Linked DNA regions of Homo sapiens. The protein of the gene in region 4 purifies or fractionates together with the protein of the main gene of each other region. This does not show direct contact. Each region holds a gene or a part of one and is shown on either strand. Other genes may lie near its edges.

The links.
Region 1: the proteins of TANC2 (region 4) and KIF13B purify together in Homo sapiens (affinity purification with mass spectrometry, with the first as the bait; one large-scale study listed by BioGRID). This does not show direct contact.
Region 2: the proteins of TANC2 (region 4) and RALGPS2 purify together in Homo sapiens (affinity purification with mass spectrometry, with the first as the bait; one large-scale study listed by BioGRID). This does not show direct contact.
Region 3: the proteins of TANC2 (region 4) and RBM45 purify together in Homo sapiens (affinity purification with mass spectrometry; one large-scale study listed by BioGRID and IntAct). This does not show direct contact.

Annotation. Positions count from the first base shown.
Region 1 is NC_000008.11:29,144,571-29,148,070, forward strand, and holds part of KIF13B (kinesin-like protein KIF13B), read right to left. Parts: intron 3,033-3,500; coding exon 2,822-3,032; intron 1,971-2,821; coding exon 1,808-1,970; intron 1-1,807. UniProt on the Homo sapiens protein: Involved in reorganization of the cortical cytoskeleton. Regulates axon formation by promoting the formation of extra axons. May be functionally important for the intracellular trafficking of MAGUKs and associated protein complexes.
Region 2 is NC_000001.11:178,723,744-178,728,043, reverse strand, and holds the start of RALGPS2 (ras-specific guanine nucleotide-releasing factor RalGPS2), read right to left. Parts: upstream 2,801-4,300; 5' UTR 2,625-2,800; exon of another isoform or gene 1,760-2,624; intron 1,299-1,759; exon of another isoform or gene 1-1,298. UniProt on the Homo sapiens protein: Guanine nucleotide exchange factor for the small GTPase RALA. May be involved in cytoskeletal organization. May also be involved in the stimulation of transcription in a Ras-independent fashion.
Region 3 is NC_000002.12:178,118,937-178,122,436, reverse strand, and holds part of RBM45 (RNA-binding protein 45), read right to left. Parts: intron 2,151-3,500; coding exon 2,028-2,150; intron 1,264-2,027; coding exon of another isoform or gene 1,258-1,263; coding exon 1,078-1,257; intron 1-1,077. UniProt on the Homo sapiens protein: RNA-binding protein with binding specificity for poly(C). May play an important role in neural development.
Region 4 is NC_000017.11:63,420,735-63,424,234, reverse strand, and holds part of TANC2 (protein TANC2), read right to left. Parts: coding exon 2,280-3,500; 3' UTR 1-2,279. UniProt on the Homo sapiens protein: Scaffolding protein in the dendritic spines which acts as immobile postsynaptic posts able to recruit KIF1A-driven dense core vesicles to dendritic spines.

The DNA.
Region 1 (3,500 bases), on a different chromosome or scaffold from region 4:
AATTAAAGGCCCTCCTACCTTATATTCAGCCAGCCAGTGAATAAATACAAAAATCCCATTTGTGACCTGTGTGGGTAGTGGCTTTCCTGGGGGAGAATGCTGGACCTGGGACTATAATAGCAACGGGCAATATGGTGCAGCTACCATAACTTAGCCCTCTTGCAAAACTGGAAATAAGAAAAAAATTCACCAGAGAAGAGTTCACAGAATGGACAGGACTTTAAACAACTTTTCAAATACCAAAAAATAGTCTGTTGCACGAAAGACTACAGAGTCAGCCTAACTAAGGAGAGATGCCAGGCGACATGAGTTCTTCCAGGCGTTGACATGGCTGCCCCAGTGCAGAGCCACACCTTTCAACAAAGCCCAAAAGAGGTTACGGAGAAAAGGGCTGCGGTCATGCTTACTGGGGAAAAATCTTTCAGGTTTCTGCTTTTTTCAACTTATACACTATAAAATCAAAGAGGATCTTGTACTTCTCAGCCTTCAAGGAGAAACTAGGCCCTGAACCTTCTCCTTGTGACTGGCCTTCCTCTTCGGTTTTTGGTGAGTCCTACTGTACCCAGACTTTGCCCTACAAATACTAGTGTTCTAATTAAGTAAAAATTTTCAAAATACACACAGAGTATACAAAAACAATGATCTGTAAAGTAACGATCATATCATATTTACAATACCTTTCTCAAAATACTAAGAATCATATTTGCCAAATATCTAACCCTGTACAAAACGCTGACCTTGATGCTATGATGTCATAGGGAAAGATGTAATCCTTGCTATCAAATTAGAATAATATCCGCCTGTAATCCCAGCACTTTGGGAGGCCAAAGCAGGTGGATCACTTGAGGTCAGGAGTTTGAGACCAGCCTGGCCAACACAGCAAAACCCCATCTCTACTAAAAATACAAAAATTAGTCCAGCGTGGTGGCACACACCTGTAATCCCAGATACTGAGGAGGCTGAGGCAGGAGAATCGCTTGAACCCAGGAGGCAGATGCTGCAGTGACCCAGGATCACACCACTGCATTCCAGCCTGGGTGACAGAGTAAGACTCCCTCTCAAACAAAAAAAAGAAAAATAGAATATCCAAGATGGATTGATTAAAGTTTTGCTGTGTTGACTACCGCAGGCTAAACAGAACACACGGATCCACAAAAAATTCATCTGAATAGAAAATTCTACCTAATCCATCAAAAATTATGTATGAATGTGATCAAGAGCTAGAAAAGAACCTCAAAAAAAAAAAAAAAAGATGAAGGAAAAAAACCCAACTGAATGGCAAAGATAGAAGATTGTGATGGGACTTTCCCCCTACATTTTATTAAATTTATTATACCAAAAAAAGTATGATCCTGAATATATACATGACACCATGACACAACTAATGAGCAGTTTTACAGAGCAAGCTATTCCAAGTAGAAAATAACATAAGCAAAATGAACACCTAACTTGTGGAGAAGGGGTTGTAGAGTGGTAGCATAAGGAAGGAAAAAAAGACATTCGGGGAAGATTAATCAGAAAAGACTTCTAAGAAAGAATTTAAACAGATTTGAAGGAAGAAAGTTGAGTGAAATGAACTGTCAGGGCCAGGTGAGATGCAGAGTATATTCCCCTAGCAGATAAAATATACATACACTCAAAGGTAGAGAATGGAAAAGGAAGTCAATTCTACCCAAAAGCATGGAGGACAAAGGATCTGGACTTGGGGCAGGCACAGACAGGGATCTGAAGCTTAAATAACACCAGGAAATATCAGGCGATCTTATCCAATGAGATCTTTGTTTTTTTCAAGGAACGGCAACCTCACCTTCCTGTTGGCATCCAGGCTGGAGGCTGGAATCTGTAGGGTAACTTTGTATTCTGTTCTTTTATCCAGCTCCTCAGCAATGTAATTAGCTTCTCTCACCAATAGATTGGCCTTAACAATTTGTTCCCTCAGCCTCATCAGGCTGTTATTCAACGTTGCTTCTCTAAAAAAAAATAAAGAAGCGGCAGAGGTAGGGAAGAGATTAACACAAAGCAGCTAGTCAGAAAATCATACAGTGGTAGTACATCATTGCCAAAGTGTGAATTGAGCTTTTTCCGTGGTCGTCTGCACGCAGGGACTGTGTTGCTGACACTGACCCATGCACACGCTTGAACCTCAACTACACGATAAGCACTGGAAAGCAGCCACACAGCAAGCCGGCTGTAGATAACAGCAGTGCCCCTGTATGCAGATCACCAGGGGATCTTCATCAACTCAAGATTCTGTCTCAGCAGGTCTGAGGTGGAGGCCTGAAATCCTACATTTCTATCAATCTCCAGGTAAAAGGGAAGCTGCCTGCCTGCAGACCAAACTTTAAATAGTATGAGGTTAGTGAAGTACAGTCTGCAACCATGGGATAAGGCATTTCAATGCAATGCTAATTAGCCCATACAGAGATCAAATTTGCAATCTGCATCTCATCAGCACCATGCTTTACCTACCTGAGCTAATCAGTCCAGATAACCAACTTTGTTTTTCTAAAAATCATCTACCCAAGCTTCAGAACCTAAAGCATAATACAATGATCAAGTGTACTTCTATATCCAAATCCAAAAGCCATACCAACTGAAAATGGAGCAACACCTAACACCAACAGTTTTAAATAATGCAATATAAATGGGCAATTCCCCTTTTAAAAACAAATGCAAAGTGGTTCTTGGCTGTTAACACTTATCTTTTAACATAATTCTTTTGTAAGCACCATCTTAATGTTCCCATTTGACACTTTCCCTAGGTGTGTTAGAGGTGGCAAGCCTGAGCTATAAAGTTAACAGGCCCCTCTGTGCCGCCTACCTCTCCTCAGCCCACTGTCTTAAGCGTTGCTGAGCGCTGGGCGAGTGGAAAGAAAACCTGTCCATGCTCCGGCAGTTCTGCTTCTCAGGAGACAGCCTTCTCCGGAGCTGCTCCAATTCGTGCTCATACATAAGCCTCTGGCGCTCCAGTGCAGATCGTTTTTCTTCTTCATGCTGTTGTTCTAAGCTGTTTAATATGGACTGCATCGGATCTAAACACATTTTTAAAAAAGATACATGATCGAGAGTTACAACATAATAAACTTCAAATGTTGTTCTATATGGTAATGTTGTCTGTCATCTTAACTATACCACCTAATACTTTAAAGACAATTTGGCATAAACTTAGCTTTCCTGACTTTCAATCACTCATGTTGTTATATATTCTCAGACATATCCTCAACCATCTTCCCTGCAGAAAAAGCAGGTCTATTATATGTTCTACACATAACCTAAGACATGGCGAATCCTCCAGAAATACAATCATAAGCCAATGACAGGCAAGTTTCTAAAGCAGAGAAATTTGACCGGGCACAGTGGCTCACACCTGTAATCCCAGCATTTTGGGAGGCCGAGGTGGGCGGATCACCTGAGGTCAGGAGTTTGAGACCAGCCTGGCCGACATGGCGAAACCTTGTCTCTATTGAAAATACAAAAGTGAGCCAGGCATGGTGGTGTGC
Region 2 (4,300 bases), on a different chromosome or scaffold from region 4:
AACCCAAAGTATATAAACATAGGCATATTCTAAAAACAATTGTCTTAATGTTTTTGTTCGCTAGGCAATAATTCCCACAATTCTCAGAAAGAAAAAAACAATATCCTTAACCAAAAAGTTATCAGAGGAGTTTCTACTTCTTAAACTTTTAAACAAACATATTTGCCCACTTATCATTTAAGCCCCATCAGGGCTTAAATGATAAGCCCTGTTGTGTCTCCCCTGTTGTGTCCCCAACCTCTAGGGAACTAACTGGCACCAAGTAGGTACCCAATACACATGTGCAGAATGAACTGAGTCTCTGGAAAAAGCTTAAGTGTTTTAAGTTGCAACAGGACAATTTCACCTATATATCCATCATTCACTACACTGAACTCTAATGACGTAATAAAAAGACTCGTACCAGGTATTTAAAAACACACACAAAAATATATTACTCACATATGTATCTGACTCACAAAGCCAGTTTTTCAGTTATGTTTTCTCTCAGGAAAATTTGTTGTATTCTTTCTAGTATTACTAATAAATATTAGAAAAGCACGTTGTGTTCTGCCAATGCAAGCATTATCTTCAAACTTACGTTGCAATCTGAAAAAATTTAGGCAAACTAAACAGTATTTCCAGAGTCCTGCCCCAAAGTATTACTAAAAGTCAAATTCCTTAATTCAATGAAAAGTGAAATAACGCACAGTGGCGCATGCCTGTAGTCCCAGCTTCTTGGGAGCCTGACACGGGAGGATCGCTTGAGCTCAGGAGTCTGAGACCAGCCTGAGCCAAATAAGGAGAACCTATCTTAAAAGGAAAAAAAAAAAAGTGGAATATAATGGGAAAAACGCACATCTTACCGTTCAAAAATTATGCTGAATTTTAAAAAGAAAAAATGAACTACGCTTAAAATAAATACACTGAAATTGTTTATCCCAAATGGCATTAATGCCCTTACATTTTGATATTTAGATCTGCCTCAAAAGACCTTTGAAGCTACATGATAAACTTCATGCCTACAAAGCTTGAGTTAGAGGTTATCTTTGTTAAAATAATACTGTTTGGATGCTCAGTTTTGGAAGTTTCCTCATAATTCTAAATTAAGATATTTAGCCGTAAGAGTAATACACTTATGTGTATGATTCTATAGCACTTGTTCTATAGCACTTGTACAAGCATAATGATCTTGAGTGGAACAGGCTTTATAATGAGCAAGCTATGATCTGTCTAACAGCGATACTCTGCAAACACGGGCTGAAAAGTTTCCTAAAATTCTGATGGTCATCTTCAAAGAAACTTGAACAGGAATCGATCTAATGGTGGACACAGAAAAATACCCAAGTCAACTCATGAACACTGGTAAGAAAAGGCTCTCTATAGCAACTAAAGTGTTGGGGAAAAAAAATCCAGGGAGCATAAACGATAAAGCTCAATTAACTGCTGCTTGTGTGATTCCACTTTATGGTCTTAAATACACAGTAGGCATTAGATATTTCTTTTGGGGTTTTTTTTTTTTAACAGAAATTTAGTATTTCAATTGCCCCTCCTCCACAGCTAACATCAGTGCCCTTTCTTCCTCCTCCCTTACCCCTCCCAACTCAAACAAATTAACATTTGTACTAGGTACCTCCTATCAGCTCGCAGCTTCTTCCCAAACACGCCCACGTACACTGAAACTGGCTTGCGTCTACACAACACACAGCTACAGGAAAAGAGCTTCGAGGGGGGAGCTGGGGCGGGGGGTTAATAATTCGCTCCGCACAGGTTTACGGCTATTTTCCAGAAACTAGTTCCTCGCTCGTGGCTCGCGTTTCTTCCAAATCACCTCAAAAGCACGGTGTTTATGAGCCTACCTAATCCGATACTGCAATGGAATTCCGGATATTTGCAGACAGATCTCCCGGCTTTGCAAGTGTTTGATGAGATACGTTCGGAATCTCCTTTTTTTTCTAGAGCCCGGTTCCAGGCCGTAGAGCAAGCCGACCTGGGGCTGCGGCCCCTGCCCCACACCCGGCCCGCGCGCCCGGCCCGAGGCCAGCACAGGACGCAGCCCCTCCGGGGCCGGGGCTGGCGGGGGCCGCTCGGGCTGCGGGCCGCTCTGCAACAGGTCACCCTGACCGCGACTCCGCGGGTTCGCGGGCGGCCAACTCTGCGGCCAGGCTTCTGGGCGCAGCCGCCAGGGCCAGGGGAGGGGGTGTGGCCCGGCTTCTGCTGGTCCTGGCTCCGAGGTCCGGGATCGGGCTCACCTGAAGGAAGACTGAGGCGCCGCTGGGCGCCAGAACAGAGCGGGCGGAGGCTGGGGGCTTCCGCCACCCAAGAGGGAGAGCGAGGCGGGTTCAAGGGGTCGCAGCGCCCCCGGCTTCAGGACGGCGCCCCCGAGCGGGGACCCCACGGCCGCTCCGACTCTGAGAACCCGCGGCCGAGGGAGGCGCGCCGCCCAGCGCCCTTCTCCCTCAGCCTCAGCCCCAGCTCCGCAGCCCCCTCCCTGCGCGCAGGGCGAGCAGCCCCGGGGCCCGCGGCCGGGAGAGCCACACTCCGCAGCGCCGCCGCCGCCATTCCCCGCGCCGCCCGGGGGGCGCCGCGTACCCACCCTCCCTCCCTCCCTCCCCCGCACCGCCCCGCGGCCTGAGCCCACCGACCTGTGCAGCCGCGGCCGTCGCCTCAGAGGACGGAAAGACGATGCCGGCCTCACGCTTCACCGCCACGGCCGCCGCCGCCTAGAGTAGCACTCGTCGACCCGAACAGTCACCGTCTCTCATTCAGCGCCCGCAGCAGCCGCCGCCGCCGCCGCCGCTGCCGCTCGGGGGAGGAGAGTGAGCTGGAACCACCCCGTCCGCGCCAGGGGTGGGGGACGAGAGCGGACCTGGCGGGGGCGCGCGCCAAGCGGGCGGGGCGGAGCCGCGCGCGCGCGCGCACCAACGGAGCGCGCTCGCGGGGGCTCTGAGAGCTGCAGCCGTCAGGGTCTTAACCTCGCGCTTCCCGCCCGCAGCTTTTCGGCCCCGCGGAGCCCAACTGCCGCCGGTGATCGGTGCCCGCAGCGCGCGCAGCCATCCGCAACCCCACCGCCCGGCGCCTGCTGAAAGGAGGGGCTCCCACCGGCCAAACAACGGGGGGGGGAAGGGGTAGGAGGATGGACAGGTGGGGCGTCCGCCACCGCCTGGCCACCCGCTCCCGGAACGCGGCCCTCTGTGAAATCCGCCGTGATGTCTGTGGCCTTCAGCGCCGGGCTCTTCACCTTTAAGGCCAGAGAACAAAGTCTGGAAGCACTTGGCCCCAAGATCAAATATCCAGCCCACGCCAGCGGTGTTTTTAGAAGTCACTGAGGACAAATGAGGGGGCTCCCAATGTGGAGAGTCACCCCACTGTCTTAGATAAGGTCATAAATTATGGTGATCAACATCCTCACACATTAAGATTCGGGAAGTGTTAGAAGTAGGCCTTTGTAAGATGTTACGCAGGGTACTACCCTTGACTTAAGGAGCAAATGACAGAAATTGGGCGGAAAGGTGTTGTTTCAGAGTCTACTAAATGGGTGGCCTACTTAAAGCTAGCACCATTTGATGCAGTGTGACTGTTAACGGAAGGTTTTAAGTGAGCCGCCTTTGTATCTGCTGTCATTAGACCATTTGGAAATGGATAATTATTTGATGATCTGCAGTTCTTTCTCTAGGCAATGTGCAGTAGAATGTGGAAAGAATACTATGTACCAGCATTAAGTGTAAAACATGAAAGGACCAATAATTCACTATTCCCATTTGGTTTCTTTCTTCCCTTTAATAACCGCTAAACAGAACTGATTAATCTTGAACGTTGAAGATTGCTAATTATTTCCTCCTTTGATTGCCTTCTGTCATAGCCCTTTTACTCTAGTTGGGGACGCTAGAATGCCCTTCAACCTCCTTCTCTCAAATAGGGTTACTTTAAAGCACCCCAACGCAAAGTTAAGTCAAAAAGAAAAACAGCGAGGATAGGCAACAAAGTTCGTAGTGTTTCATTTTTATTCCATTTTACTTTCAAAGAAAGTCTTGAATCATGACGAAATCACTAGAAGAAGTAGAGCAATCAAAAGAAGAAAAAAAGCGTTCCCCCCCACCCAATATTTCAAATGACAAGAGTCCAAAAAAGAAAAGAAAAAGGAAGATGATTGGTAAAAAGGAGGGAAGTGCATTATGTATACAGAAAGTTTTCGCATAGATGTTAGTTGCTTCAAGTCCCAAATAAACAACAACTAAATGAATTAGCACTTGGAGGAAAAACCCCTTCCAGTTATTGAGTTGGGTAAATGTTTAGTCTTCTTAAAGTGTTACTAAGAGAT
Region 3 (3,500 bases), on a different chromosome or scaffold from region 4:
AGTGAGTATGTGGGGGTGTCTGTATGAAGGGTGGAGTTACCTTAGTCCTGTTGGTCCACATGACCAAACTCACGTCACTACTTCTATGTCAATAGCCATGCCACTCTAAAAGGACTAAATCAGGTATCCTTACAAAACTGGAAGAGATGCCAACCAAGTATGATTTCTCTCTACCACCCCTCACTAACAAAGAAAAAAAAACCCCTTAGATTTACTGAGTGCCCTATTACATGCCAGAACTTGCATTAAGTTATTTTACATATATTATCTCTAATTCTTACCTAACCCTGGCAAAGAAGGTATCAATGATCCCATTTTACATACGAGGAAAGAGAGGCTCAGAGGGGATAAGCAAGTTGCCAAGGTCTCAAAGCTACATGTCACTGCTGGGATTTGTACCCGATTCTATGCAAAATGGAATGCCAGACTTTCCCATTATGCCACAATGCCTCCATTAACAAAGAGCCTTAATAAAATCAAAAGCTTAAAACACAAAGATGGGTTAGCTAATGTTAGATAATGGGTTTAATCAATTAACTAATTAATAAGTTCAAATGGCTGATATTGGAGACTTGCTTCCATTGAGAATTGGAAGAAGCAGGAGAGAAGCAGGGCATTTAGATGCTTGGAATGAAAGGAAGGAGGGGTATAAATTTAAGAGAAAGAGATCTAGGGATGAATGAGGAGGAAATTTTGTGAGTTTCGTAACTTTGTCTAGCATTAACCAAAAGAGTACATAGAAACAGAGGCTCTATCCAGAGGTATTTTTTGTTATGCAACTGGAATACAGAATGTTATATTTTGTGGGAGTTAAAATATATTTTACAGTGAACAATTTTGTAAAAAGAAGATATATTTCCAGGGCTTTGTTTATTAAGGTATCACCATATTTTGAATTCTAAAGTAGAGAAAAAGGAAAGATAAAATTCCTGTCACATGAGCAGTACTTGACATAAAAGTGCCACTAGAGAAAAGCCATTTTAACAAAACTCTGTGTGTGTGTGTGTGTGTGTGTGTGTGTGTGTGTGTGTGTATATATACATATATATATATTTTTTAATGTGAACATTATTTTACCATAATTTGAATAAGGATCTCGTTGAACTTCACAATATTCCAATCCTGGTACTATATCAAAAATGCTGAAAAGCTGTTCTTCAGTGAAAGGAACTCTTGATACAACTGACAAGCGTTTGGAGATTGCTTCCTGGCCTCGGCTATCATTCTTGTCAAAACTTGAAAATTCAGATTGTTGTTCTCCGACAATATAAAAAAAAGTAAATCTTTAGATTTCTACACAGCCAACAATTCGCTTAACATTTTAAATACTAGAAAACAGAGTCCATTGTACTGAATAAAGGCACTGTATTTTGTAGTACGCTTCTGGTCATCAGAACTACCGATGGGACTAATGACAAGAAGAGACAACTCTCCCCACTCCCCTACCTTTAATGCAGAAATATAAGAAGAAATGCATAGTCTAATTTCACAGAAAGAAGTTTAGTATGCAAAACTGAAAAATATGGTAAGTATTTTACCTGAATGTTTACGTCAAATAACATTCACAGGCCTTACTTTCATTACCCATTTTCCCCTTTTTCTATTAGAGCTTCTACTTTTACCATTCCTCTCCTTTCTGTAGCCCTAATTTTAAAGTAGCAGTAGTTCTGGAACAAAATTTTAGGACTCATACGGAGAGGATCTCTACATATGTCTTTTTAAGTTTTTGGTCAGCTATATAGAGGCAGAAGCTCACCCAAAAAAGTGGCAGTGGTAATAGTTTCTAATATGAGGAATGCGTAACTTAACAGAGAAAACTATAATTAGAAATCAGTTAAACAAAATAAGTGTTAAATATTAAGAACTTTAGGAGTCATAATCCACATTTTAGGAATAAAAAAACTACATTTAAGATTTTTATTCACTAGGTGAAATTTATAGATGCCCAATAACAGAGTATTCTTTAAAACCCAAATTAGATTGCATATACTACATTATACTATTAAAAGTAAAGGTTGCCTACTTACCAAATGGAAACATATTTACTCTAGGTTCATGTCCCAAAGCTTCTTGCCTCATATTACTATAATAATCTTGTTCAGAGGATTCAGATGCTTTATTTTTAGGTTCAGCCAAGATTGCTCTAAAACCTGAAAAAACCCCATGAATTTCAAGTTTCACAGCAAATTTAACATACCTGCAAATATACTTGATTGCTAGTGCCTGACTCAGCTTTATAAATATAATTGTACAAAGCAAAATCTATACAATGGCCATCTCCTCCAGACCTACTTCTTTGCTTTCTGGAAGATGGCAAAGAGTAAATGACAAACAGCAAGTATCCCAAATTACGGGTCAATGTAGACATGAAAGATCAGCAATTCTATGCTATCCTTTCCCATCTCCCCCTATTACAGATAACATCGTCATTCATTCACCTAAGCTCCTCAACATTAAAATCCTGTAGGGCTTCTTTATATTTAACCTGTCACCAAGTTTCTTCCTTTGAAATGCACACAATTGGAATATGCTATCTTTTACTCTAACTTCCCTGCCTCTGTTTTTAATTTAGATTCTCTTCAATTAATTACAAGAGCCCTTTAACTGTTTTTTTTGCTTCTGGATCAAGGGTTCTTAACTAGGGGTCCAAGGATGAGCTTCAAAAGGTGGGAAGATTCCACAAACCCTCTGACACTTCAAACAAAATGCTTATTATGCATTTATGTGCACATGGGCATATTTCAAGGGTTCAGTTTTCTTCACATTATTCAGTGGCTTAAAAAAAGGATAAAACCAGCCAGTTTGAATTCTTCTCTGGAAATCTATCATTAATACAGTGGGGTTAGATCAACTGTTCTTACTTTTGTCTTTCTAAACAATCTACAAAGGAATCCTAATGCGGACTAACCTTGAACTTTTCCTAACCTCCAATATATGGTTCCCATGTTCCAATGTACCTAGTTAACTGTGTCTCAGAATGTCTCAGCAGAAATACTGTGCTTTACTCAGACAGCTGCCTTCACAGCACCAAGCAAAACACATGTTTATTCCTGGCATTGTGCCTCTGCTAGCACTGCTCTCACCTTCTGTCCTGCCTCCTCGACACCAGACACAAGTCCTACCCCCTCGGCATGTGTTGCCATGCTCATCCAGCACTTGTTTTTCACCATTGACAGACTCTACCATACACTTATGAACATTTTTTTCATTTGGCAAATTCTTACTGAGTCTACTATAAATGGCATTTACTTTTATAGAGAGCTTAATAAATCTTTATTGAGGGCCTATTATTGTACTAGATACCTGGAGTGACAGACAAATAAGGCATACTTCTTGCTTTCAAAGAGCCTTTAAAAAAAGTTCTTCCATTATTCTTTATTTTTTGCCTATTAGATCTTGGCTACCCAATACAGCTATAAATTCCTTAAATGTGAGGGCTGCCATATACTTCATCTGTATCCCTCTACTTAGCATATTGATCAGTATACTGCAGGTACTCA
Region 4 (3,500 bases):
AAAACTGAGAGACCCTGGGGAGAAGCGGCATCAGCGGCATATTTGTAAAGCTACAGGACCTGCTCATTCGCCTGGACAGGTGAGTGCGGGTGGTGTGTGGCGTTCCAAATGAGCAGGAGCACTTTCCTGACAGACACTGAGAAATTCTTCAAAATGCAGTGGCTCCTCAGCGAGAGGCGGTTTTAAGGAGTAAGATGTAAAGATGCCAGCAGTGCTGAGACCTGGCCAAAAAGCAATCTGAGAGGCCACTGGGCTCCTGGCTAGAGGTTGCCGCTAGAGCTACACATTTCATCTTCCTGATGTGAGAGAGAGGGGTATAGAGATGGAGAGAGGACGCTGATGCCTACCCTGGTCTAGCTGAGAAGGCGTCGCTGATGCCCACCCTGGTCTAGCTGAGAAAGCAGTCCTTAGGTATCAGGGAGTGTGGAAAGAGGCTGGGGCTTGAGTTAGTCTTGCTATTTGCTTTCAGCACAGAGACAAGTCCTGGCCTGTTTTAGGTTTGGGGGTGGAGAGGTCCGTCTATTTCGCAGAATCTAAATTAGTAAAGAAATGCTTCTGATCTCAGGTTCATGCTCCCTGTGTCTTAATGATCCCTTCAAAGGGCACTTACTTACTTACTTACTTACCAGACACATGGGACTGGTCGCAGCCAGATTTTTATTCAGGAAACTGCCCTTCCTGCAGCCCTTCCCTAACAGAGCAGAATGATTCCTAACAACAGAGAACGAATGCTCCTTTGTTTCGTTTCAGTTGCTTAGTTGAGTTGTTTAGTTGTAAGAGCTGATGTACAGCCAGTGCCAGGCCTGTGCCGAGGCTTTGGTTCCAATGTTCTTGCTATCCACTCAATAGTGGCCTCGCTCACTCAAAGGTCAGCCTACCAAATGACCACGAGACCTAGAAGATGTGTCTTCTAGACAAGCTTCAAGATCAGAAGCTTGCTGTCTATCTCATGCCCCCACCCAGGGCTGCAAAACAGGGCTGAAAGGGGTCTTTCTTCACCCTGAAACAGTTTTTGCTGCGTCTGACTTTAAAATATCACACTCTCATAAACACTCCTAGAAAAAGAAAAGAAACAGTTCCTGTAATAATAGATAATCAAACTATAGATCTCAAAATGGAAGTAGACAACAACGGGCATGACCCTGGGTGGAAATATTGGGACTCAGTCTCATGGTCCCAAGAGATTCCAATCTGCTTCTGAAAGAAACAATTTCTGTATGACACCATCTGGGTTTACAGGAAGAGGGCCACTAGAACAAAATCTGGCTGTAGGTGAAGATCCAACTAACGGGATTGTCACACCAGCCAGCCTTCGGTTAGAGTTTCCTTTTAGTGGAGTATGACACTCAGTGATGTATCAGGATCTAAAAAGTAGATGTCTCCAGAACAGACTTCCTATAGCCTTTCACTGAGAATCCAGAACAATCTTTTTTGTTTTTCTATGTATTCATTCCCTCCCCCACCCTGGAAAAGCAGCAGCTTTTAGTGGTTAATTGTCGGCTAAAAATCTAGAGAATAACTCTCAGTGAATTCTCTTAATAGCCACAATTCTCATCTAATTTCCTTGGCTGACTGCAATATTTAAAGGGCTGGCTGTTTTTGACATGTTCCTACAATGCCTCTTGGAAAATCAATGTAGTGACATTTTACATAATTATATTGGGGTTTTCTTCCAATTTAGCACTTAATTCTTCTCTCTCTGATCCTTTTACCCCCTAGGAAGACCAGCAATAATCCTAATGCACACTGCAGACCTGGTGGCTGCAGGGCGCTGGCGGTCTGGGGAGGGGCCACAGCATGAGAATGCGCTGCGGCTGGCTGTGTGGGTGACACTGGCTAAGGATGCAAAGGCAAAGGGGCATCGCACTCTTTCTAAAGTTTCTAGAAGAAAACGAACAAGAACACCTTATTTTTTAAAAAAGGAAAAAGACAATTACACAACAAGAACATCAGTGAAAGCGATTGTCTCCTGGAAAAAGCTGACCAGTGTGTCTGATCTCCCTGGGTTAAAGCACACAGCACGAAAATCTCCTCGTTGGCATCTGAAGAGAGGGAGAGAGCATGTGGCTGGGCACAGACAAGAGAAACTGAAGTCCTGGCTCCCGGGAGGCCGCTTCCCAGTCGGCTGCATGCAAAGGATTTCAGCATGTGGGCTGCCACCTCTGAACACCACACAGAAACTACATGAGAAATTAAGCCAGAGAACTACCTCGAATGTGGAAACCAAGCCTGAAAATGTGCAGTGAAAACATATGGGTCTCACTCCAACAAAACGTCTTTTAAACATTAGACTCCACGAACGGTCTCTTTGGTTTGATAGGGGATGTCTGCCCTTGCCGAGAGTCTCGGGACAGCTGCCTGTACAGGTTGTCCTGGTATGCCTGAGCCACAGGTAGAGTCCGAGCTACCTTCACGTCGGGATAGGAGGAGGCCTGGCTGACTCGCTCCAAGAGGTCTCCACGAGACCCGTTAGCCAGCATCCCATGGGGGCTGTAATAATCGTCCTCCAGCAAATGGCCATTCTGTGCATTGTTGGTTTTGTTATAAAAGGCAATGTTGCTGATGGATGATGGTGGACTGAAGGACTCAGGCTGAGGCAGGTTGCCTGGAGACGTGGGACTGAGGACGGTGTCCACAGATGACACTGCCCAGGTCCGATTCTGCTGGTGGAGGTGGGGGTACTGCTGAGTCCGTGCTGTTTTATCTATGATCCCCATGAATGGTGTGGTCCTGGATCGGGTGGGCTCACTGGGGTAACCTCCTTGAGTTGGAGACACTGGCGACAGCTCGTCACATGACCTCTCATATGCAGGTTTCAGTGGGATCTCCATTTGCTGGATGGAAGAAGATGGCCGGAAGGTCGGAGTTAGGTTGGAGGTGGAGGAGATACTATTGCTAGATGGAGAGAAGCGAAGGCCTACACTTTGGGAATGCAGCAACGGCCTGGGAGTTGGCGGGTGCGGTTTGATTTCGTTAGGGTTGACACTGATAGGTCTTCTGATTAAATGCGACACATCAGGGGAACCTAGTTGGCTGGAGGAGCGCTCCAGATCTAGTTTTGAGTGACAGACTGGGTAATAGGATGCTGACTGGCTGCGTCCGATCTGTGGTGTCTGGCTGTATCTCACGCCACCTCGGTATGCTGAGGAAGGTCGCTGTGGAAGATCCTCTTTGGTCAATCCTCCATGCTGACAGATGGCGCCTGCACTCAGGCTGGCTTGGACATGCTGCACCGGCCTTCCATCCCCTACGATTCCCCCAATTGACCCTTGATAAACCAACCGGCTCTGGCTGACTCCTATGTCTCCTTGTGAAGACTGGTATTTACTGGCCATTGAATGGGCTACTTGGCCATAGGCTCCTGTGGGGATGACGGTGCTTGAATGGACGGCTGGGCTGGGCTGGTTACTTCTCACAATCTGGGCCTTGGCAGGCTGTAGCCTGAGCCCTTGCTGGGGAACTGCCACAGGGAGCTGAGGCATCTGGTAGGGCCGCTGGGC